Regions from separate parts of the Homo sapiens genome. Here region 2 is linked to region 1. The links come from fine-mapping of genetic effects on gene expression. A gene starts in region 1. The other region holds a variant in brackets. All regions are shown on one strand. Distances are from middle to middle.

Region 1 (11,934 bases):
AAGTACAACCCAAAGAACAGGAGAAAATATTTGCAAAACATTTATCTAGTACAAGACTTGTATCCAAAATATTTCAATAAATCTTACAACTCAAAAATAAAAAAAAAGACAACCCAAATGAATGATGGGTAAAGGATTTAAACAGGTATACCTTTAAAAACATATATACACTGAGGTGGGTGGATCACTTAAGCTCAGGAGTTCAAGACCAGCCTGGGAAACATGGTGAAACCCCGTTTCTACAAAAAACACAAAAATTAGCCAGCCATGGTGGCATGCACCTGTAGTCCCAACTACTCAGGAGGCTGAGGTGGGAGAATCGACTGAGCCCGGGAGGCAGAGGTTGCAGTAAGTCAAGATCATGCCACTGCACTCCAGCCTGGGCAACAGAGTGAGACTCTGTTTCGAAAAAAAAAAAAAAAGAAAAAGTAAAATATATATGTATACACACACAAATAGCTAATAATCATAAGGACAGATGCTTAACATAATTTGCCATTAGAGAAATGCAAAACAAAATCACCTGGAGAAACGAATGATACTCACTACAATGACCACCATCAAAAAACAGATAATGACAACTGCTGGGGAGGATGCAGAGAAACCAGAAACTCATACCTTACTGGAGAGAACATAAAACAGTGCAGCTGCTTTTTAAAGAATTTGGTAGCTCCTCAAAATGTTAACATGGAGTTACTCTATCACCCAGCAATTCCACTCCTAGGTTTACAACCAAGAAAAATGAAAACTTGTGTCCACAGAAAATTTGTAAACAAATGTTCACAGTAGTATTATTCATAACGGACAAAAAGTGGAAACAACCCAAATATCCATCAATTGATGAATAAACAAAATGTGGTCTATCCTTACAATGGAATAGTATTTGGCAATAAAAAATGAAGTACTGATACATACTACATGGGTGAATCCTGAAAACATGTTAAGTAAAAAAGACGCCAGTCACAAAAGACCACATATTATATGATTCCATTATATGAGCAATCCAGAATAGGCAAGTCTGTAGAGACAGAAAGTAGATTCATGGTTGCTAAGGGCTAAAGGTGAGGATCAGGAAAGCTAGAGGAGAAATGGGGAGCAATTGCAAATGGGCATGGAATTTCTTTTTGGGATAATGAAAATGTCCTAAAATAGCTTGTGATGATGGCTCCAGAACTCTGTGTTTATACTAAAACCTTTGAATTGTATACTGCATTTGTTGTTTCTTTGTTTGTTTTTGAGATGGAGTTTTGCTCGTTGCCCAGGCTGGAGTGCAATGGTGTGATCTTGGCTCACTGCAATTTCCACCTCCCAGGTTCAGGTAATTCTCCTGCCTCAGCCTCCAGAGTAGCTGGGATTACAGGCGCCTGCCACCATGCTTGGATAATTTTTTGTATTTTTAGTAGAGACGGGGTTTCACCATAATAGCCAGGCTGGTCTCGAACTCCTACCTTAGGAGATCCCCCAGCCTTGGCCTCCCAAAGTGCTGGGATTACAGGCGTGAGCCACCATGCCTGGCCTGAATTGTGTATTTTAAATGGATGAATTGTATGGCATGTGAATTATACCTCAATAACTCTGTTTAAAAAAATAGAAAAACAGCCAGGTGCAGTGGCTCATGCCTGTAATCCCAGCACTTTGGGAGGCCGAGGTGGGCGGATCACCTGAGGTCGGGAGTTCGAGGCGAGCCTGACCAACATGGAGAAACCTTGCCTCTACTAAAAATACAAAATTAGCCAGGCGTGGTGGTGCATGCCTGTAATCCCAGGTACTTGGGAGGCTGAGGCAAGAGAATCCCTTGAAGCCAGGAGGTGGAGGTTGTGGTGAGCCGAGATCACGCCATTGCATTCCAACCTGGGCAATAAGAGCGAAACTCCGTCTCAAAAAAAAAAAAAAACAAACAGAAAAAATGACAGATAATTATGCTGAGGTCACAGCAGACCAAAAGCCCAACACAACTAGATAGCATGGGGGCTGATTAAACACAGTATTGGAATGCTGTTTTTATTCTCTACCTACTTTCCAGCTCAAACAAATAAACAAATACAAACACATCTGTGTGAATTTATACACAGTTCATTCTCTTACTGTGAACACAGATCTTTACTAGAATAATATATCTAAATTTGAGTTCTACAAATTAAATAATGAGGCAACAATAAGGTTTCCAAAGACGCTTTCAAAAGGAGAACTAAGAAAAGACTATAATTATTTAAATTAATTTCCATTTATTTTTTCGTTTTGGAAATGGAGTTTCGCTCTTGTTGCCCAGGCTGGAGTGCAATGGCATGATCTCAGCTCACTGCAACCGGAAGGCGGAGGCCTTCCAGGTTCAAGCGATTCTCCTGCCTCAGCCTCCTGAGTAGCTGGGATTTCAGGCATGCGCCACCACGCCTAATTTTGTATTTTTAATAGAGACAGGGTTTCTCCATGTTGGCCAGGCTGGTCTCAAACTCCTGACCTCAGGTGATCCACCCACCTCAGCCTCCCAAAGTGCTGGGATTACAGGTGTGAGCCACCACACCCGGCCTAATTTTATTTATTATTATTATTTTTTTGAGATGGAGTATCTCTCTGTTGCCCAGGCTGGAGTGTAGTGGCATGATCTTGGCTCACTGCAACCTTTGCCTCCAGGGTTCAAGCAATTCTCCTGCCCCAGGGGGATGGTTCTAGAATACCCCCTCAAATACCAAAATCTGAGAATGCAGAAGTCTCTTACATAAAATTGCACAGTATTTGCAAATAACCCACAAACATCCTCCTGCATTACTTTAAGCTGGGGTGTCCATTTTTTTGGCTTCCCTGGTCACATTGGAAGAAGAACAATTGTCTTGGGCCACACATACATAAACTACACTAACACTAATGATAGCTGATGGGCAAACAAACAAAACAAAAAATGCTAAAAATCTCCTAATATTTTAGTTAAGTTTACAAATTTGTGTTGGGCCACATTCAAAACTGTCCTGGGCTGAGGGTTGGACAAGCTGCTTTAAGTCATTTGTAGATTACTTATAATACCTAACACAATGTAAACGCAATGTAAGTGGTTGTCATGTTGTATTTTCTTTGTATTATTTTACTGTTGTATTATTTTTTATTGTTAGTTTTTGTTTTGTTTTGTAGTATTTTGATCCGCTGTTGGTTGACTCTGCAGATGCAGAATGCTCGGATAAGGAAGCCAACTGTACTCCCGCATACCAGCTACTTGCTTACTCTCTATTTATTATCTGTTATTCTCTATGCCTTCATTCTAGCATATGCTTCATTCTAGCATAAGTAATCACCTTTCTACATTCTGGAGTCAGGACAATATCTAGATCATTGCTCAAGAGTTCTGAACTGGGAGATTAAAAAGCTGGGCCAGCTGGGCACAGTGGCTCACGCCCGTAATCCCAGCACCTTGGGAAGTAGAGGCGGGTGGATCACCTGAGGTCAGGAGTTAGAGACCAGCCTGACCAACATGGAGAAACCCCGTCTCTACTGAAAATACAAAATTAGCCGGGAGTGGTGGCGCATGCCTGTAATCTCAGCTACTCGGGAGGCTGAGGCAGGAGAATCACTTGAACCCGGGAGGCAGAGGCTGCAGTAAGCCGAGATCGTGCCATTGCACTCTAACCTGGGCAACAAGAACGAAACCCGAAAAAAAAAAAAAAGGCTGGGGAGGTGATTGTGGGGAAAGACAGGTCTCCCAAAATGCCCTCTGTGTGTAGTTGTTCACGGAAACCACATAAACAGAAAATAGCTACAACAGCTAATTCTTACTAAGGTGTCAAGCGTTGTGCATAACACTGCCTAATGTGTGACATTAAACGTTTTCACCAGGTCAGCCACTTAATCTTCAGAAAACTGGTGGCCAACTCTGAGGTTTCACATTGACGTTTAATGGCTGTTCCTAAAGAAGTGCGTGCTTTTTAAAAAAATAGAGGATGGGAGGTAGGTTGGAAAGGGAAGATAAGCGGCAATGGAAAAATCGAGTGTGATTATTGCATTTTTATCAAATATGTCTGTCTGGATTATGTGGTTAGAATCACTGCAAATTTGGCTTCTATAAATACTTTAAAACTTTTTTCCAATGTTTTCATTATCAGATCCACTATGCAGGCTTTGAGTGGGCTGCCATTTAGTTCAGATATCAAAGTATTTTACAAGTAACTAATAGCATTTATTATCTACACGTGGAAAACTATAGCAAAGAAAGGTCAATCAAAAGTTGTGCTCTAGGTCATCAGATAAAATGAGATTAATACTGAAAAATTCTTCCACGAAGACCAGGGGTCCAGCTAAATGTGTGGTGGTGGGAAAAATGTTTATCTGACGTCCCTCTAAAGAAACCTCAGATGGGAGAAAAATGTCCCAGCCCCAGGAATGGACACATTTAGGTTTTTCCTTTTTTTTTTTTTTTTTTTTTTTTGAGACAGGGTCTCGCTCTGTTGCCCAGGCTGGAGTGTAGTGGCGCGATCTCTGCTCACTGCAACCTCCGCCTCCCGAGTTCAAGCGATTATCCTGCCTCAGCCCCCCGAGTAGCTGGGATTACAGGCGCGCGCCACCAGGCCCAGATAATTTCTTTGTATTTTTTAGTAGAGATGGGGTTTCGCCCTGTTGGCCAGGCTGGTCTCGAACTCCTGGCGATCCGCCCGCCTCGCGTTCCCAAAGTGCTGGGACCACAGGCGTGGGCCACCGCGCCCGGCGCACATTTGGGTTTTTCGTGGTCAGCAAAAGCACGACCACCCCAACACATAAATCTGGCGAATCATACGCAAATTCCCTCATGCTATATAACCTTCCACTGCTCTTCGTACCTTTGGACAGGAACATACTGTTATTTTAGGGAAGGAAATGGATCAGATACCTTGTCTCCTTCTTCTGCACTACCAAACACCCCAAATGGCGTCCCTAGCAATCAGATTCCAGAAACGTTTCCTCTCCTCTTGAAAGCCCACCGCTCCCTTCACCCAAAAAACAGAATAATCAGGGGCCTAATGAAGCTGTCCGGCCAACCTGCAGGAGAGAGCTGAGGAAGAACCACTTGCCGCGCCAGGAGCATCCCGCGCCGCACTATGGAGGCAGCCATCTTGGAGCGTACCAAAAGGAACAGCCAACGGGTTACGGACAGAGGAAGGGGCGGGGTTACAGCTCGACCTCTCGGGGCGCCCAGAATTGGACGAATCCCTTTTGTCGCTCTCGACGACAGGACCGACGCTCCGCCTCCTCGCCCCGGTTCCAGTAGTTGGTATGGTCCGAGACAGTATGGCTGCTGCATTTCGGCCCTCGAATCGAGTTCTCCTGCAGGCGCTGCAGATTTTGGTGTATCCTGGGGTGGGAGGCTCCGGCTCTGTCAGCTGCCGCTGCCCTCTCGGAGGTATCCGCGGCTTTAGCCTAGGGAAGGAGGGGAGGGATGGGAGAGAAGGGAGTGTTAGATCCCAGCTAGCATCTCTGTGGAGCAGCCACAGCTCCTAAGTCACTCACTGGCCTGGAGCGCACCCTCGCCCTCTAGTTGCACGTGGGTGCAGTGGTGACCACTGGGGGTCGTGGATACCCCCAGTGCCTGCAAATCGAAGGACTGCTGGGGTATTGACCTTGGGGCTGTAGTGCTCCCTCAGATGGGGCGACGTTCGTCTTCAGGAACATCCCTCCCGCCTTGGGTGACTTTTATTTATTTATTTATTTATTTTTGAGACGAAGTCTTGCTCTGTCGCCCAAGCTGGAGTGCGGTGGCGCGATCTCGGCTCACTGCAGCCTCCGCCTCCCGGGTTCAAGCGATTCTCCTGCCTCAGCTTTCCGAGTAGTTGGGACTACAGGCGTGCGCCACCACGCCCGGGTAATTTTTTGTATTTTTAGTAGAGACGGGTTTCACTATGTTGGCCAGGCTGGTTTCGAACTCCTGACCTCGTGGTCCACCCGCCTCGGCCTCCCAAAGTGCTGGGATTATAGGAGTGAGCCACCGCGCCCGGCCTTTTTCTTTTCTGCAGAGTTTGGAAGCAGAGGTCTTATGGAGTCTCAGTTCTGCTAACAATCTAAAAGACTTAACGGCACGTTTCTTCATTTTTCAAAACTATCCTCTAACATCTCTATGAAGAGAGTTAAATCTGAAGATGCTAGTGAGTGATAGTAAAAATGTTTGTCAGGCATTACTTTAATGTAGTTTACATACATTAATTCCTTTTCTCTAGACAACACCCAGCAAGAGAAGTACCATTCTTTTCTCCATTTACAGAGGAGGAACAAGGTTAAGTAATTTGCCCAAAGTCAGAGGGAACTGTTAGAGGTGGGATTTGAACACACCCAACAATAGAAACCTGCTCCTAACCACTTCACTGGACTGCCTTTCTGTAAATAAATAGCAACTTTTATTGTTACCTTGTTACTGCAGCTCACAGAACTCTGTTAGTGCGTGATTCTTCGGCCACGCTTGGTCCGTTTTATCTCATGCACAGCCAAGGATCCTAAAGAAAGGATGATGTTTCCCAAATCTACTAAGCTGTGATCAATGATTTCCATGTATCTCAAATGTATTTTGAGTCCACATCTGAGAGGCCTTAACCCCCTCATTTCACAGAGGACAAAACTGGGAGTTCCAGTGGTCATGCTGCAGCTTTTTCCACTACACTGTGCTTCTCCCTGGATAAACCAAAACTAAATATGCCTGTTTTGCATTTAAATGTTATTAGTTTTTTTTTTAAATGCCCTTGATACCCTTAACCGATGGCAAATGCCCATTTGTACTTCAAATCCCAACTTCCTGTCAACCAGTCCCCACACAGGTTTATCACTAGCTACGGTTAATCACTAGCTTCTTTCACACACACAAATAAAACCTGTTTTGCTGAGGATTTGCATTCTCTGGTAGTTCAGAAATTGTTTTTCCCAGGATTTATATTTGTACAGTTTGTACAGTTATATTTGTACCTGTCTAATGGATTATCTATAATAGATGTTAGAGGTAATCCAGCTCTATTCATGTTATTTGCTAACTTCTAAAACAGTCAAAATGACTTTACTTTTTTCTTTCTCTGATTTTTAGCTAAAAGATACCTACTTACAGATAATGTGGTGAAATTAAAAGAATTTCAACAAAAGAAAGTGGCTGTTGCATGTAATCTTTCTGGCACTAAAGGTAATAGAATCTATTTTGTTAATTCTGTCATTTATCTGTCATTTAAGTTTCTCTGTCTTTATCCCTATTCAGTGTCTCCTTCAGTGACTTTATTATGCCTTAGAAAAAGTTGAGACCATTTATTGTTAGTTTCATAGTGAACTCTTATATTTATCTTGCATTTCATACTTTGCTGCTACAACGTCTACAGCTCTCCTCTTATTCCTTCTCTTACGATCCCAGAGAAGTATTAAAGCTAGTGCTGCGATTGGTCTTGTCTAAATCTGTGCCATTAAAAGTGAGGTTTGAGGACCAGCGGCATCAGCATCTATTGGGTGGTTGATAGAAGTGCAGAGAGAAAGGCCCCAGATCATTCATATGCACAATAAAGTTTAAAAACTTCAGATGATTGGCTTTCAAACTTTTTGATGTAACCTTCAGTGAAAAATGCATTTTATGTTGCATCTCAGTACACACAAACATATCTATATATAAATGAAATCAAATGAAACAAAACAGTACTATGTGTGATGATACATTTGGTATTTTTCACTCTGTGCTAGAAAAGTCAGTAGGATCAAAAATTTCTTAAAAAACAAGAGAAACCTGACTACCAAACCTAGGATTTGGCTGGGCATGATGGCTCATGCCTGTAACTCCAGCACTTTGGGAGGCCAAGGCAGGAGGATTGCTTGAGCCAGGGAGTTTGAGATCAGCCTGAGCAGCGTAGACCTCATCTCTACAAATTTTTTTAAAGTTAGTTGGGCGTGGTGGTGCATGCCTGTAGTCACAGCTACTCCAGGGACTGAGGTGGGAGGATTGCTTGAGCCTGGGAGGTCTAAGGTGCAGTAAGCCATGATCACACCACTGCACTCCAACCTGTGTAACAGAGTGAGACCCTGTCTCAAAAAAAAGATAAATCTGGGATTTGCTTTGAAAAAAAATCCAGTGTGTTTGAGGATTGTAGTGTAGAGGAAACATAATTAGCAAAATATTGATAATGATTGAGGCTGGGTAATGGCACTTAGTGAGGGGGATTATTATCCTGTTCTTTCATTTCTTGGGTATGTTTGAAAATTTTTGTTATAAAAAGCTACAAACAAGAACACCACCCTAGGTCTTTTTCCCTTTCAGCACCTGAAAAATCTTGTGCATTCATTCTCTCCCTCCTGCACATAGAGTTCTTCCCAGCATTTCATACCTTTTATTGTGTGTGGATGCAGCAGTGGTCCCTGGGGGTTGTGGATATACCTCCTTGATCCTCCTTTATGAACACATCTAAGACTTTCCTTTTTTTTTTAATAACTCTTGGTGTCCCTACTGACTTTTTCAACCATAGACCCAGCTCTCCTTCCTCTCACTGCCAGATGTTTGTGAGCTCCTGATTAACACATTAACATTCTCTTTGTTTTGGTTTGTTTTTTAAGAGACAGTCTCGCTCTGTCACCTAGGCTGGAGTGCAGTTGGCACCATCATAGCTCGCTGCAGCCTCAAACTCTTGGATTCAAGCAATCCTGCTTTAGCCTCCTGAGTAACTAGGACTACAGTGCCACCATACCGCCTAATTTTTAATTTTTAATTTTTTTTTGTAGAGATGGTCTCACTGTGTTGAGGCTGGTCTCGAACTCCCAGGCTCAAGCTAGTATCCCGCCTCAGTCTCCTAAAGTACAAGCGTGAGCCACTGCACCCATCCTGATACTTTCTGCCTCCATTCCCTCACAATTCAGTCCTCCAGAAATCAATGTTCTCTCGCTGCTCCGCTAATCATACTGTTATATAATACCATATAGGGGGCAAAAAAATAAACCTTTGGAATGGGGGGAATATATTTATCCCCAGTTGAGTAGGCTCAATCTAGATTTCACTTCAGTCTTTTCTTTCTACCCAGGTATTTTAGATCTATGTGAGGTTTGCAGTTAGGGCTTCATGTCATCCAGTTGTGATTTCCAGTTGTCATAGTCTTCATAAGTCTGTGGCAGTTGTGTACATGTTCTGAAAGGCAATTAATATAATCAGTGCCAATCTGCTCTATTGTCAGACTGATATGTTTAAAGTCCTGTCAACCTTTCATCATTTTGAGAGCCCACAGTGGTACTCTGTTGTATACCACACTATTAACATACTCATCTCTCTGGCATCCTGGCTCTCCCGTGATGGACTCCGCCCTTTCTAGGACGGTTTCTGGTTGATCTAGTCACAGCTTTTCCCTCCACACCTGTCATTCCCAGTTCTGTTCTGTTGCTCATGCTGATTTCCTTACCTAGAATATCCCCCTCCTCCATTTCTCCAACCTGATTTCAGCCCTTTCCTTTCTCACTGGTACCCCTCCACTTTCACCAACCTGGTCTGTTCTGAGTCATAATAGTAAAGGTTGTAACAGGACTCTTCTGTCCACTCTGAGTTGTAATAGGTGTCGTAACAGGACAGAAGAGTCTTATTATGTTTATAGTATTCATGTGTCACCTCCTCCATCATTGTTTTCAGGTAGCTTTGTATAAATTTAGCTTGCCCTCCCCAAAATGCTTTTAAGTTCTTTGAGGGCAGGAACTATTCCTTACGCTTCTTGGTGTCTCACACACAAAGAAGGATACTTCCGAGTATGATTATATGATAAACAAATGTTGATTGATTTGTTTTAAAACACAAGTTATATCTGTTGAAATACTGGATTCTTAAGGTGTTGTTTTTTTTTTTTCTGAGACAGAGTCTTGCTCTGTCACCTAGGCTGGAGTACAGTGGCATGATCTCGGCTCATTGCAACCTCTGCCTCCCAGGTTCAAGCAATTCTTGTGCCTCAGCCTCCCTAGTAGCTGGGATTACAGGCGTGCACCACCACACCTGGCTACTTTTTGTATTTTTGGTAGAGACGGGGTTTCACCATGGTGGCGAGGCTGGTTTCAAACTACTGACCTCAAGTGATCCACCCACCTTGGCCTCCCAAAGTGCTGGGATTACAGGCCTGAGCCACTGCACCCGGCCTCTTAAGGTTTATTAAGGAGGATTAAGGAGTACAAGATGTAACGTCATCTCTTTGATGACTTGAGACTTTTTAGACTGGAAGTTGCTTAGAAATATTTAATAGACTAAATCCTCTTAGATCTAACAGGTGACACAAGGAATGAAAATGAGAACAATAATGTTTCTATTTACTGGCAGTTACCGAATGACAAATGCTTTACATATATCATCTCAGGTAACCCTGTGAGGAAGGTACCACGATCCTTAATTTACACATGAGGAATCAAGTCTCAGAGCAAGGGTCTCCATCAGAATGCAAGTGGCCGAGCTTAGATTTCAGCCCAGGTCCTTCCATCTCTAGAGCCTTTAACTGTTACATGGTTCTGCAAATAAAAATTGGAAGAGCCACTGCATTATCTCAAACCTAGTAGGTCTTTTCTTTTAAATTGAGAACAGTGCCTCTGCTTCTAGTTCTTGTGTTTTAGATGTATTTGTGCCTCTCCTTTCAGCAGCATTCCTTCAAAGCTCTGGGTTCTTGGAACAAATCCTATAGCTATTTCCTGGCAGCTTCTGATACTGACAACAGTTCTGCCTTCTGGAAAGCAGATGCTTGGTTGGTGCCTGCTTTGCTTTTCACCCCGCATTTTGGTGGGAATAAAGCCCCTTATTGATGACAAGAAGAGGTGCCTCCTTTTGGTTTTTGTCCCCACGGTTGATCAGATACAAAGACAAGGGAGAATGATAGACTGTGATGACACTGAAATGATTCTGTCACTGAAAAACTGTTTGCTGCTGTTTGGAGGACTGTTTTCCCCCCTGCCCATTACATAGTACTTTGGCATGCCTTCTAACAGCTGAGTAAAAAGAGACCAAGAGGAATGAAAAAGAGGTGAAGTTGAATCAAATGAAAGAAACGTGAGTCATGTGGGTCCACCATTGTGGACAAACCTACCTTCAACTCACATTTTCTTTTTAGTTTTCCCATTTGGTTCTCTGCCAGTTGACGGTTTGGGTGTCTGGCTACATTTTCTTTCTTTTTCTCATGAGTCACCTAGAGATTCAGTTATTTGAGCCAAGCCTCTGGAACAGTAATTCTCAAACTTTAGTATACCAGAGGATCACCTAGGGAATCAAAAATGCCAATTCTTGAGCTCTTACCCCACAGATTTTATTTTAGAGAGTCTTGAGTGGGCCTGGCCCTGTGCCCATGTCCCTGCCTCCTGTGACAGATGCCATCTGCTGATGCTGTTCTAGAGGAGATTGGCCAGTGATGGCAGCTGTGTGTTTCTGAACCCCTCTCAGTGCCCCTCTGCAGTGAGCCGGGGTTGGGCTTCCCCATCTTCCTGAGGTCAGACTCCTTATACTCTCAGTCAGCCTGAGTGATGGTCACCATACTGTGCTTTCTTCCAGAAACGTATTTTAGAAACTTGAAAAAGAAACTGACCCAGAACAAGCTCATCTTGAAGGGGGAGTTGATAACCTTACTACATTTGTGTGAGTCTCGGGACCATGTGGAACTGGCTAAAAATGTCATTTACAGGTGAGGCATTTCCTTAGAATGTTGCCACCCTTATCCCTTCTTACTCTGTTCCTTTCTATGAGCAGTCTGATCCACTTCGAAGTTGTTGCCACCTCTATACTAGTGACTTCCAGATCTCTTGTTCGGATGCCTACCTTGAACTCCAGACACCTACATTCACTTATTGTTGAGCACACACTTACTGGGTTCCTACTATATGCTGGGTGCTAAGGATAGAAAAGCAGATATTTTATGTCTAAAGAAGTTACCAGCCTATCACTGACATATCCCCTAGGTCTTCAAATTCATTATGTACAAATTCACTCCTCTTCTTCTGTTTTCCTTCTCACTGGCTAGTCACTCA
Region 2 (11,934 bases), 91 kb before region 1:
TGGTATCTGTAAATTAAGGATCAGTGTAATCCACATAAGCTGCTGGCAAAGACCAGAGATGCAGACATGAAATTCATTTGAATGAGGTGATTTCTGTGACTTAGGAAGTAAATTTAAAAATAGAGCATTTTTGTTTTGACCCCTCTCCCCTCTACTTTCACTTTGAGGTATATCTCCCTTGACCCACAGAGGGCCTAATCATCAGAAATGGGATATTAACAACAGCAAGGCCAGTAGAAACACCTACCTGAAACGAATTAATCCTGTCTATGTCATATCAGAACAGAAATCCTAAAAATATGCCAAGGCCTTTTAATACCACTAATACATCACATCCAAACTGGACACATAGCACATTCTTGCTGACATGTGAACTCATTTTCTACTGTTAGAATGCAAAGAATGCAAATCTGGCTGAGATTGGAAGGAATATTTCCCTGGCAAAGGATTTATGTATAATTTTGTGTTTTCAATTACCAGTACTGACTACAGCAGGGTTAAAACAAGTATAGTGAGAAATGTATATCCTTTGTTATAAACGTCTGGCAAAGAGCATAATGATTCACTAGACATAAGTATAAGGTGACAGGACAGACACCAGACCTGACCACCTCAGGACTGAAATGAAAGCCAAGGGATGACTCTAGCAACCAGAGTCAAGAAAAAACAAATATGTGGCTCTACGGTGACCTTTAAGCCATGGTAACAAGACAACCAATGTCCTTCTCAGGACTCACACTGGCTGTAAAAGCTGTTTGGACAGGAGCAGACACTGCAGCTGCCTGTGGGGTGTAAGGCGCATCATGTCTCCTGGAGTTCGAGCAACCTCATACCATCAAGGGTCCTAGGTGACCAAGAGGCATGAGCTTTGGGGCTGGTGGGAGAGTAGTGTTCTCGTCCTGGTAAAGTGAACACCTTAGAACTTTGAAAGAAACATCTGACCGAGATCTCATCAGCATCACACATTCACACAGAATGGTTTAAGATGGTTCCATCTCTGGTCCCCAGATTCATTTCTTGAGGACTTTTATGGGGAAAGATGCTATGTAGCCTCTCAGGACTACATGGTATTACAAAAACACCAAACATATTTAAAATGAAATTTTACCCTCTCTTGAGTTCCCACTGAGATTTTTTTTTTTTTGGTAAGGAGGTGAGGGACGAGGCAGTGGAATAGTTTTTTTTTCCTAGACAATGAACTATAAATCAATGTTAATCATATTTTCTAGTGCCTTTGGTCAGGAGCATTGAAAATGTTTGTGGTTTTGCATTTTTTCGACTTGATAAATACCTATTCTATAGACATATAGAAAGTAGGGGTAGTGGAAAGACAATGAAAACAAATTTAAAGCTCAGGTTATGGGAAACAGATGGCTAAATCTCACTGCCTTAGAGCTGAAGAACATACCGCTTCTCTACACAGCTTTATGTCTTCTGGGGAGGCAGCCACTTTCTCCATCACTTGAAGGGCTCTGTCAAGGTAGCCTGGTTTCCATATCAGAGGCATGTTGTGGTACACAGCCCGTAGCCCTTGCTGCAACTCCACCTTCCCTGTGGCCAAAAAGAACAATAAAGAATGCTCAGCCATGTCTTCCCACCATTTCTAAGACTGAGGACCTGAAGGCCCAAGTGAATGTTCACCTGGCAGCACTAGAAATAGAGAAGGATCATTTTAAATCTGTACCAACAGACTCATCTCATTCGGTGACACTTCAGATGGATAATGACGAATGTGGTAAAATTCACTGTATCCATTTTGTAATGCAAAATTACATGAACTTAGTTTTCTTCTTTCTCATTTGGGCTGAGGATGTATATATAAACCACTGGGCTGAGGGCAATTGAGAGGCTGACATATATGGCTCTAGGTAAGGATACTCTTAAAAAACAAGTCAACTGAGATACAATTTTTGTTTCAAGAACAAAATCTTCCCCAGAAAAAGAAATCTCACAGCTTTCCCACTGTGAAAATTTTGTCAACATCCGACAACTTTCCCTGCTAGGAAATGTCTGTCATTTTTTGAAATCCTTCAAAACACCCAATCCTTATGAAAAAAAAAAACCCCTCATCTTTCCCTTCTTTCCTTTGAGTTTCGTCAGTTTTAAAATAACAGAGTTCTCATGATCTTTTTGGATCTCTGGACATGAATGTTTCTCTGGGTACCTCAAGCCATCACACCTGGAGTTCAAGATGTGGATGCTAGACAGCAGGGTCTTCTGGTAGGGAGATGGCTGTCTGTATTCCTGTGGCACAGAACCTGGCTGCACTAATGACCAAAGTCACCTTGAGCTGCCCAGTCTTAAATCCACCTTCTTTTATCTTTCCTGGGAAGGAGGATTTGGGAAAGCCAGAGTAGGACACAAACAGACAAAGCTTATCAGGCGACAGCTAATTTTAGACCTTTAAGGTGCTTGGGGCTGGACTGCAGTTACATTCTGGGCAGCTGCTTCCATCAGGGCTGAGTGAGGCTGCACGGCAAATGACACAATGAGAGCAAAGAGCTTCTGATCTGATGGCTGCTATCACAAAGAACCAGGGCCTCTGCTCACAAACCACAACAAAGTACATATTCTTTGCCCTGTCACTTCTGACCAATTCAGGCTGTATGACAGTCCTGAATGCTGATCTGAAAGCAAAGGAAAATACATGTAAATCAATATCAAAAGTAGGTGGCAAATAAGGAAAAAATTATTTTTAAAAAGAGTGGTCAACTCCTTTGTTAGTCTGATAGACAGTCAATAAACTCTGAAGTTCCTGAGTTATTATATCAGAATCAGCACCAAGAATAACACACTACATTCTGTTGGCAAAGATCAACTTCAAAAGCAGTCAAACTGCTATAACTTTATGATTTTTAAAAAACAAAGGTAAGCAGAAGCAATGTATAATTGAGAGATGCCTAACTACTTAAGAGACGATGGGAGAGTAATGAAATAACATAAATTTAATAAACGTCTGTAAATCGGGACGTTACATTTAGGTTGAATCTTATTTACCCAGATTCCACACAACCCAGGTTCCGAGGCCACTCTTCAGAAGGCTTTGTCCTCTTAACCTGTCTGATTTTCAATGCAATCAGGGCACAAGAGGAAAGCCACCACTGCACCTCCTGGTGCAATCACATGGTACCCATGAACCACTCCACTTTTCCTGAAGTGCTACTACTTCTGCTCTTAGTTTATCTTCCCTTACCTGAAAACAATACCAAAGATACAAGTTCAACTCTAACTCTTAATTTCTTACCTTCTGGACTTTAGATCTAAAGAGACAGAAAGATCTTTGTTAATACTGGAAAAGATTCTACTAGCTAGTCTCCCTAAACAGGGCCAGAACATCCCTTTCTTTATCCCTTCTTCAGACTGATTACCACTGAATATTATTACCTATATCCACCAGAACTAGTTCTTGCTTTGCCAGTGATGGCAGGTTTTAAGAACCCTCTTTACTCTCTTATGGAGTAACTGTAAGGCCATCAAGGTCTATTTTTATGTCTAAAAACGAAGGCTAATTGGATTTCACTGGTAAATTTAAATCAAATTACAATTTTATTATGAACTGGAAGAATGCAACAATTCTAACCATGAAGAACAGTATTTGTAAGGATCATTTAGCTTACCAAGAAGTGCATAGCCATACAACTGGGAACTGAAACCCACTGAGTTCTTTTGTTTTAGGCCTGGAAGCAAAAGGGATGCACCAAAGTTCCTCTCCTCTTCCCACTGCAACAGAATATACTGGATCATGATCCATCTAAGCAATGAGTACTTTATACAAAAATGTGACTTTCAATGACATGAGGAAAAGAACATGTTATAGCATTAAGTAAACAAAGAAGAACAAAGCTATATATACATTATAATCCTAATTTTGGGATTAAAAGGTACTTACGTCAAAGAAAAATATAGGAAAGAAATACCCTATATGTTAATGGATTTTTGGGCAGTGAAATTATGAGTAATTTTGGTTTTATTCCCTGTATATCTTATTATTTTCCAAAAATTTGGCAATGAATAAGCGTTTCTTTTACAATCAGAAAAGCAAAACAAAACACAAATAAAGAGTACACTTTAAACCGACACTCGAGACAATCAAGATTCAACATGCTGTCAGCCCCACAGTCACTCATACTGCTGTGGCCTGATGGAACAAGCTTTTGAATTTTAAAGAATTTAGCAATGATAAGACTCCTTCAGAGTGTTAGAATAAATACCACTATTAAATTGCTTTTAGATAGATTTGTGCTTCTCAAAAACAAATTAGGCAGTCAGAAACAGTGATCGCTTCTTTCAGCCCAGGGTGCAAAATTACGCTTTAATGAAAATGAAGTCTTTAGAGACATGGGGGAAACAAAGGGCAAAAACACAAGCATTGCTACACCTGCTGCAGACTAGTAACAACGATGACTGGAGGACTTCCTGGCAATGCGGCCAGGGGAGAGCCTTGGCAACTCCCCAGTGGGATCTGTGATCTTCTTGGTGCCACATGAGTACACAGTGGACAGAGCTGGAGCCCTAACTCTGGCTTCAAAACATAGAACACTAAGCTCAGGTTGCCCTGCACTGGTCTCTGCACCAAGAGATTAGGGAGGAAGCAGAGAATGAATAATGTCTGCAGGCTGCAGTTACAACCACGGGCAAGTGAGGCACCCCAGATGTTCATAGGCACCCAAACCTCTTTACTGTAAGTAGGCTTTGTGCAATACAAGTGTCATTTCTTGAGGCTGCTCCCCAGTCTTTGAGAAAAGCAAAGACCTCAGAAGAAAAACAAC[GC/G]CCCCCCCCAAGCACTTCTGCAGCACAGGTAAATAAAAGAGCTGGTAATTAAAAACCAGGTCATTTTACTTTCAAAACTAAGAAGTTTGATTTTCCCCACCTAAAACTGCATGAAAAGTAGGGCCGACAAATAATAAATAAGGAGCCTTACAAACATTTTTCCCCCTGTAGGGAAAAACATGAGCTACAGTAACAGGCTGTAGTAGGGGTTAAAGCCAAATGAACACTAAAATATCTAAGCACTAGATACCTTTGATGTGTTAGGAGTCGAGCAGGGGTGGTGACAGTGACTGGGATGGTTATACTTCTAAAGGACTTCAAAAAAGATGAATGAAAACAAACCAATGACTGTCTTAGAAATTTTCTGATCATTGTCTGGGGCTGCTGGAACTACTGCTGCTTATATGAAGCTATTCATGTGTCAACATAAATTAACAGATATCTTCCAAGCCTTTAGTTTCTTTTCTTTTCTTTTTTTCTCTTTGGAGACAGGGTCTTGCCCTATTGCCCAGGCTGGAATGCAGTGGTGTGATCACAGCTCACTGTAACCTCAAACTTATGGGATCAAGGGATCCTCCCAACTCAGCCTCCTGAGTAGCTAGGACTATAGGCATGTGCCACCATGCCTGGTTAATATTTTTTTTATTTTCAATTTTTGTAGAGATGAGGTCTTGCTATGTTGCCTAGCCTGGTCTCAAACTCCTGGCCTTAAGCAATCCTCTTGCCTTGGCCTCTCAAAGTACTAAGATTACAGGCATGAGCCACTGCTCCTGGCCCAAGCCTTTAATTTCTATTGTAGACACTATAATGGACTAATTCAGGTGTGGTTTCATCAATGCCTTCAAAGTTTTTCCATTTTATGCTTTGCCTCTTCCATTAATACAAAGCAAATCCTCATTCTCCCAACTTCCCCGCTTTATTCTCCACTTCATAGCTAGGCATCTTAAAAGAGTTGTCTATACCTCTAATCATTCTACAATCCATTCCAATTTGGTTTCCTGCTCCATTACTCATATGGAAACAAAGGTTACGATTTAGTGCCTCCCGTGCCACTAATGCATTTAATTGACTTTTTTTATTCCTCATCTTACCCTACCCCTTTGGAAGCATTCTACATAGCAGACCATCTCTTCCTGTGGATTCTGTGGTCCAACACATTCCTGATTTCCCTTCTTTTTGCTTTCTAGCTCATTTGCAAACATTTACACATGGAAGTATAAGTCTCCACAATTGTATCTCCAGTCCAGATCTTTCCATTAAGCCCCCAGTTCCTTGGTGAAATCTCGTGACTGTCTCAATTTCAAAATGCAACATGTTCAGAGTCACATTAATGATTTTTCTCATAACATCCAGTCTTTTCCCAAAGTTCCCTTTTGGAAACAACACATGGAACACCTTGCATCCAGACATATGAGTCAGAAACTGAGGAGAGAATATGTGACCCCTGCTTCCCTGCCTCATCTTGTTATTTACCTTCCAAATATGCCCATTGGCTACTCTCTAACTGCATCATATCCTGGTCTCTATGCTACCATTATCCCTTGCTGAGATTCATGGTAGTCTCTCGGATGGTCTGACCATAGCCATCCTTGCCCTGCTCTGATAGCTTATCCACAGTACAGCCAGAAGGACCTTATCAAAACACAGATTTGATTATTATATGCCCTCTGCTTCTAACTTTTCAAGGGCTTCTCACTGTTTTTAGAACGAACACAAAATGGCTTAGTATGGCCTACATTCTCCAACCCTCTCACCCCACGTCCTCCCTACCATTTTCTGTTGTAACTACACTGACTATCTTCTTCCAGCCCATTTCTGCTCACTAAGTTTTCTGCCACAGGGTATTTGGACATGTAATTTCCTCTTTTTGGACTGTTCTTCCCCTCCTTAGCCAGTTAATTACCAGTCATCCTTCAATAGTAACCTAAGAAATATTTCCTTAAGGAAGCCCTTCCTAACCAATTTAAGTTTAAAATACAGAGAAAACTCCCTATAATATAGTCTTTTCTTAGATTTCTCCTTTGCAGTGTTCATGATAGTCATAGTTTTATATCTCTGTGATTGTTTTGTTTAAACTCTGTGTTCTTCCTAAATTGTAAGCAGAAAATGTTTGCTCACCAGTACATAACTAGCACTTGCCAATGTATGGAATTTGTATGTGTTCAATACAGTATATTTAATGAATTAATAATGAATGTGGGGTATATCATAAGACTATGACACTCATCTTAGAAAGGCATAACATGCCATCTACTCTTTAGAATGTGGTCTGGACTAAATGACCTCTTCAGTTCCTACCCAAACTGGGATTTTTGATGTTTACAATTGAGGTTAAGGGCAGATGGCAGAGGCAGACTAACTGGCTTTACCAGGTGGCTTCGTTACCTACTAGCTGGGGGGTTACTCTGTAACATCTCTAGGCCCCAGTCTCCTTATCTGCCTAGGGTTGTTGTGAGAATTAAATGCATTAATACATTTAAAACAAGAACACAGCCTGGTGTAAAGTAAGTGCTACTTAAAATATCAGTTATTGCTATTGCTATTCTTAGGACAACAATAAGCAATGATTAAACATGCGAACCTAAGATCTGAAACCAAAACTTGATATTCTAGACTTTCCAAAACGGAACTGCCCTAGAGAAACCTTAGGAAAATACTGATACAAATGAAATAATTAGTATTTAATATCCCAGGTAATGGTCAACGTTAGCTGCCTCACTGCCTCTTTGACATGCCATGTCCAGCTCTCAGTGACTACCAATGACCCATTTCTGAATGTCTGAGGTGCACTCAGCCTAGCTCAAGTTTCAAAATATGCACGAGGACTTTCTTTTGAGATTCTCTCAAGTGGAAGAACCTCCAATTCCATTTGTTAGAAACCAGTAACCAAAATGTATACAATAAACACACATTCCTGGTTGTGCCTGGCCACAGAGCTGCAGACACCTTTTTCCAGCTTTTGAGAGCAAGCCCCTGCTTGCCTTTTCTAAAGTTCTTAATACTGCTTTAGGGAAGATCACTTACACTGAAGTCTGTCTTCTTTGCCAGGCAATGAAATAAAACATAGAGGGAGAGAAGTTGGGTGGAAGGCACTTCAAAGGCTTCTTGCATCATGACCTCAAAAACCACAGATAAAGCATCTAGCAGAAGATGAAAGTAAAAAAGAGAGGAAATTAGTTGTAGGTAATATTACTAAATCTCTATTTAACTATAAACACTCTTAAAACGTGGGGCATGGTTTAAAAAAATGCAGAATTAAGAAGTAAAATATGCGGGCTTAGGCTCTGGCCCTAGTTCTTCCACAAACAAGGTTTTTCCTCAGCCTTTAGCTTCTATTTTACATACCAGAACGAACTAAATCAGGTGCTACTGCACCAACGTCCTGAAGGACATTAAATAAACCACTCATTTCTCTTGGCTCCCAGTATCATCGTCATAATGATAAAATACTATTTGCTTCACCTACTTCAAGAGAATTTTGGACAGTTCAACCAGAAAATGGCTCAAACTGTGATGCAAATTTAAGGCATCATGTCTACCAGCTAGAACAGCTAAGGCATAAAGGAGACACATATATTCTCAAGGTCACCCTGACAGGCAGAGCAGACAGGCTGGTCTGACTGCCCTATTCTCTGCTCTGGTACCTTCTCACTGTTAAGGCAGAAGAGGACAAAATGCTAAAGGAAACCCTAAATCTCAGGTGTTATTTCAAAGACAGCAAAATAATGACTATAAAAAGGACAATAAGGCTCAGTTTAAAATACTTGTTGGAAGGGAATGGGAAATGCTCGTTCATAAATTATAAGCCCCTGAGTATAACACGTAACATAAAATATTTGTTTGCACATTAATGCTGGTCATTAAAGCCTGGAGAGCAGGCTTTAAGCAATTTTTATTTTCCCTTGATATTCTACAACATAGATGGAGGCCAAGAAAATCAAGTCAAACAATTTCCTTTCTGTAGTTACTTGGTGGTAAAGCAGAGAATATTAACAATGGCTTAAAATATAGTGCCTGTTCATATCACAAGCACAACAAATGTTTTTTACTTACTGAATTATTTTTTTAACCAATTTTTACATATATTCATAACTATAAAATAGCACTGATTTGCAGCTGTTCCTACCCAGCTGGTTTTGCACATGTCATGGTTCTGAATGAGGCCACACGCATGGATTTCTATGTTCTTTTTGCAAATGGGGAAACTGAGATAGGCAGACCAGGTAGTCATCTAATAAGTCAGTAGAAAAATAAGAACCTGGAAGGGATTTTCTTTTACACAAACAAACAAGCCAGTAATATTTTAAAAGAGCATAGGCTAAAAATTCAGTTGAAAAAAAAAATCTCATTTCTGCCAACTGTTCATTACTGAATCCAAAATTATACTTGAAAAATAAATTTACTTTATCCTTTATTTATATTCTGCATTTCAGTCAGTTTGGGAAGTGAAATTAGATTGGCCTGTATAATTAACTTACTTTTCCTCCATAATCATTTATGTACTTTGATATTTTCTATCTTAAAATAAAAATAATGTTTTTAAAAATTTTGCATAAAAGATAATCATCAAAACTTTTCTGACTAAACGAGTAATGAAGAGATGTTATTAAGAAATAAAAAAGGGGAAGTTCCTACATTTGTACACCTCCCTTTGGGAGCTGGAAGCCCTATAAACACTGAATCTGGGGTTAGTTTCTTACCTTTGTAATTTTCTTTCTTTATGAAAGAATCCATCAGTAAATTGAATGTAAAGTTATCTGGAAAAATTCCATATTGAACCTATAATGAAAATGAACATAACAGGAAAAAAAGAGAAAATTATCTAATTTAGTCTGTAATATATGCCTATGTATTATTCAGAATAAAACTTGCCACCATTAGCTTTAAAATATTTGACTATCATTTTACAGCATCTGTGACAGTGAAACAGAAGCCATGACTCATGAGGTTTGGTAACAGGAACTGTTGGTCAGGGTGAGAAAGTTGTGAGTCTGATATAAGACAACTGATAATGTAAAAACTAAGGCTCCAATTCTAACACCTCATCATAGCTTAAAAAAAACATAAAAGAAAAAAGAAAAAAAGAAACCCACACAACCCCCCTAACTGGTTCAGTGACTCTTCTTATAAAGTATGAATAACAATACAAAAACAGACTCTCATGAGAAAGCAGACATTACACAGCATTTTCTGGTTCTTAGCCTGGCTTTTAAGGTCCCAAGAAATATGCCAAGAAATATTTGCTACTAAGTTTCTAGAATGTTGTGTCATACAACTGAATACTTGAGAATTCAGATTTCTTAAAATGTGGACCCTTTAGCACCTGCAGGATGTCGACTTTCTCAGAGTGTTTTTAACAATATAGATTCCTACGTCTCAGACCTATAGAACCAGAATCTGTGGGAATTGGGCACAAAACCCTGAATTTTTAGTGAGCTTCTTGTGATTTTCATGCATACTCATTTTACTACCAATGATCCTGATTGTGGCTGCATTTTTATTTGTTTCAAATTCTTCAGTAATGTTAACCACCATTCCCCACAGGGCTCCATTCTTCCCTCTTGGAACCAGTAGAAACACCTGAGGAATTTTTCCAAACTATATCCATATCCCCTTGAGAGATTTTGATACAGTCCTAACCCCCAACTGAATCACCACTGAGCTGACTCACTGTTTCCAGGTGTTATATATAGTAGCCTCAGGTGTGCCGAAATGGAAAAATGTCTAAAAACCACTGTTTTAAAGGTTGTAGCTCATGGCCAGTGTCTATATTTCTCAAAGCAGTCATCCAAATCAGTATTAATCCCTAGGGCAGGCTAAAAACCAAAATATTTTAGGATGACAAATCATTAAAGCTGAAAGGGATTTTAGAAATCAACTGGTCAGTGATTCTCAACCCAGGCTGCAAATGAGAATCAACTGAGAGCTTTAAAAAACAAACAAACAAACAAGCAAACCCAATGAGGGATGAATAGGCAGGGATGAGGGATGATACTACAATGGTGGATACATGTCATTATACATTTGTCCAAACCCATAGGACGTACAACATCAAGAGTGAACCCTAATGTAAACTAGGACCTTTGGGTGACAACGGTTTGTCAACGTAAGTTCATCAATTGTAATAAATGTACCACACTGGGGCAGGATGTTGATTATGAGGAAGGCTATGCATGTGTTGGGGCAGGGAGTACATAGAAAATCTATGTACTTTCCACTCAGTTTTGCTGTTGAAGGAAACAAAAATATTTCTCCCCAAAATAATTGAGGATGTTAAGTTAAAGATACTGAAAATGCAGGGGAAGACTCTGCCATAGCCTCCAATTGCCTGATGGCAGCACATAAATCCTTCCTTCCTAGAACAGCACTTGCTTCTGAGCCCAGAGAAGGCATCAGCAGGCACCAGAGGAATCTGAGAACAGATTTTACTATCTTCCCACATTTTCCCACCTTTTAAAGACTGGAACTTTTCCTTCGTCTTGTCACTGTATAGGATTTATGGCCCTTGGTTGAAATACTATTCAGTAAGGCCATAAGCCACTGCCTTGAGATAGAAATGCTTTTGAACTGAGGCCTTTCCTGTGTGATGAGTACAGCATGTGTTAATAAACTTCTGCTTGTTTTTCTTTTGTTAATCTGACTTTTGTTTTCAGCAGAGTGTCTCAACTAAGAACCTAAAAGGGAAAGAAACTAAATTATGTTTTCTCCCCTATACTGTGAACCCGAAACTGACAGAAAAATTTAAACTTATTAAAAAATTTTTTTAAATTCCAATGCCTGGGCCCTAGACAGATCAATTAAACTAGAATTTCAGGAGTAGAGGCAAACATCTACAATTTTTAAAAAGCTTCTTGGGTGACCCTAATGGGCAGCCAGAGTTGGAAATCACTGATTTACTACAACCCACTTGACTTAGAGTTGAAAAAACTAAGAGCTAGAAGAATACAGTTATTTGCCTAAAGTTACCAGCAACCAGGGGAGCCTGTGGGGCTACAGCCTGGATCTTCTGATTTCTAGTTTGATGTTCTTTCCACTAAAAGACTCAAGAAGCAGCAAAAATTCTAGACCCTCCTAGTTTTGCTATCATAGGAATCTTTGAGTGTAATCTGTGACATTACACTCTGAACTGAAGAAAACAAGATTTAATCCATTCCTTCCTCTGGG

What was found. PIP is the estimated chance that this variant, and not a neighbour inherited with it, causes the effect.
Region 2: its variant is fine-mapped to the expression of PTCD2 in whole blood (TOPMed, PIP 0.97).

Annotation. Positions count from the first base shown.
Region 1 is chr5:72,315,151-72,327,084 of GRCh38, forward strand. PTCD2 (pentatricopeptide repeat domain 2) reads left to right here and starts at 5,223. Exons shown (of 10, transcript NM_024754.5): 1 at 5,223-5,359; 2 at 7,022-7,114; 3 at 11,462-11,591. The coding sequence starts at 5,233. MRPS27 (mitochondrial ribosomal protein S27) reads right to left here and starts at 5,090. Exons shown (of 11, transcript NM_015084.3): 1 at 4,999-5,090. The coding sequence starts at 5,071. RefSeq lists enhancers at 4,141-4,682, 4,683-5,223, 4,822-5,151, 5,212-5,421.
Region 2 is chr5:72,224,649-72,236,582 of GRCh38, forward strand. It overlaps MRPS27 (mitochondrial ribosomal protein S27), which reads right to left. Exons shown (of 11, transcript NM_015084.3): 6 at 9,471-9,549; 7 at 7,795-7,910; 8 at 3,618-3,720; 9 at 1,409-1,551. Among named protein-coding and RNA genes, the nearest start is that of MIR4803, 61 kb to the left of the region's middle. RefSeq lists an enhancer at 9,614-9,908. The variant GC/G (reference allele first, on the strand shown) is at 4,770.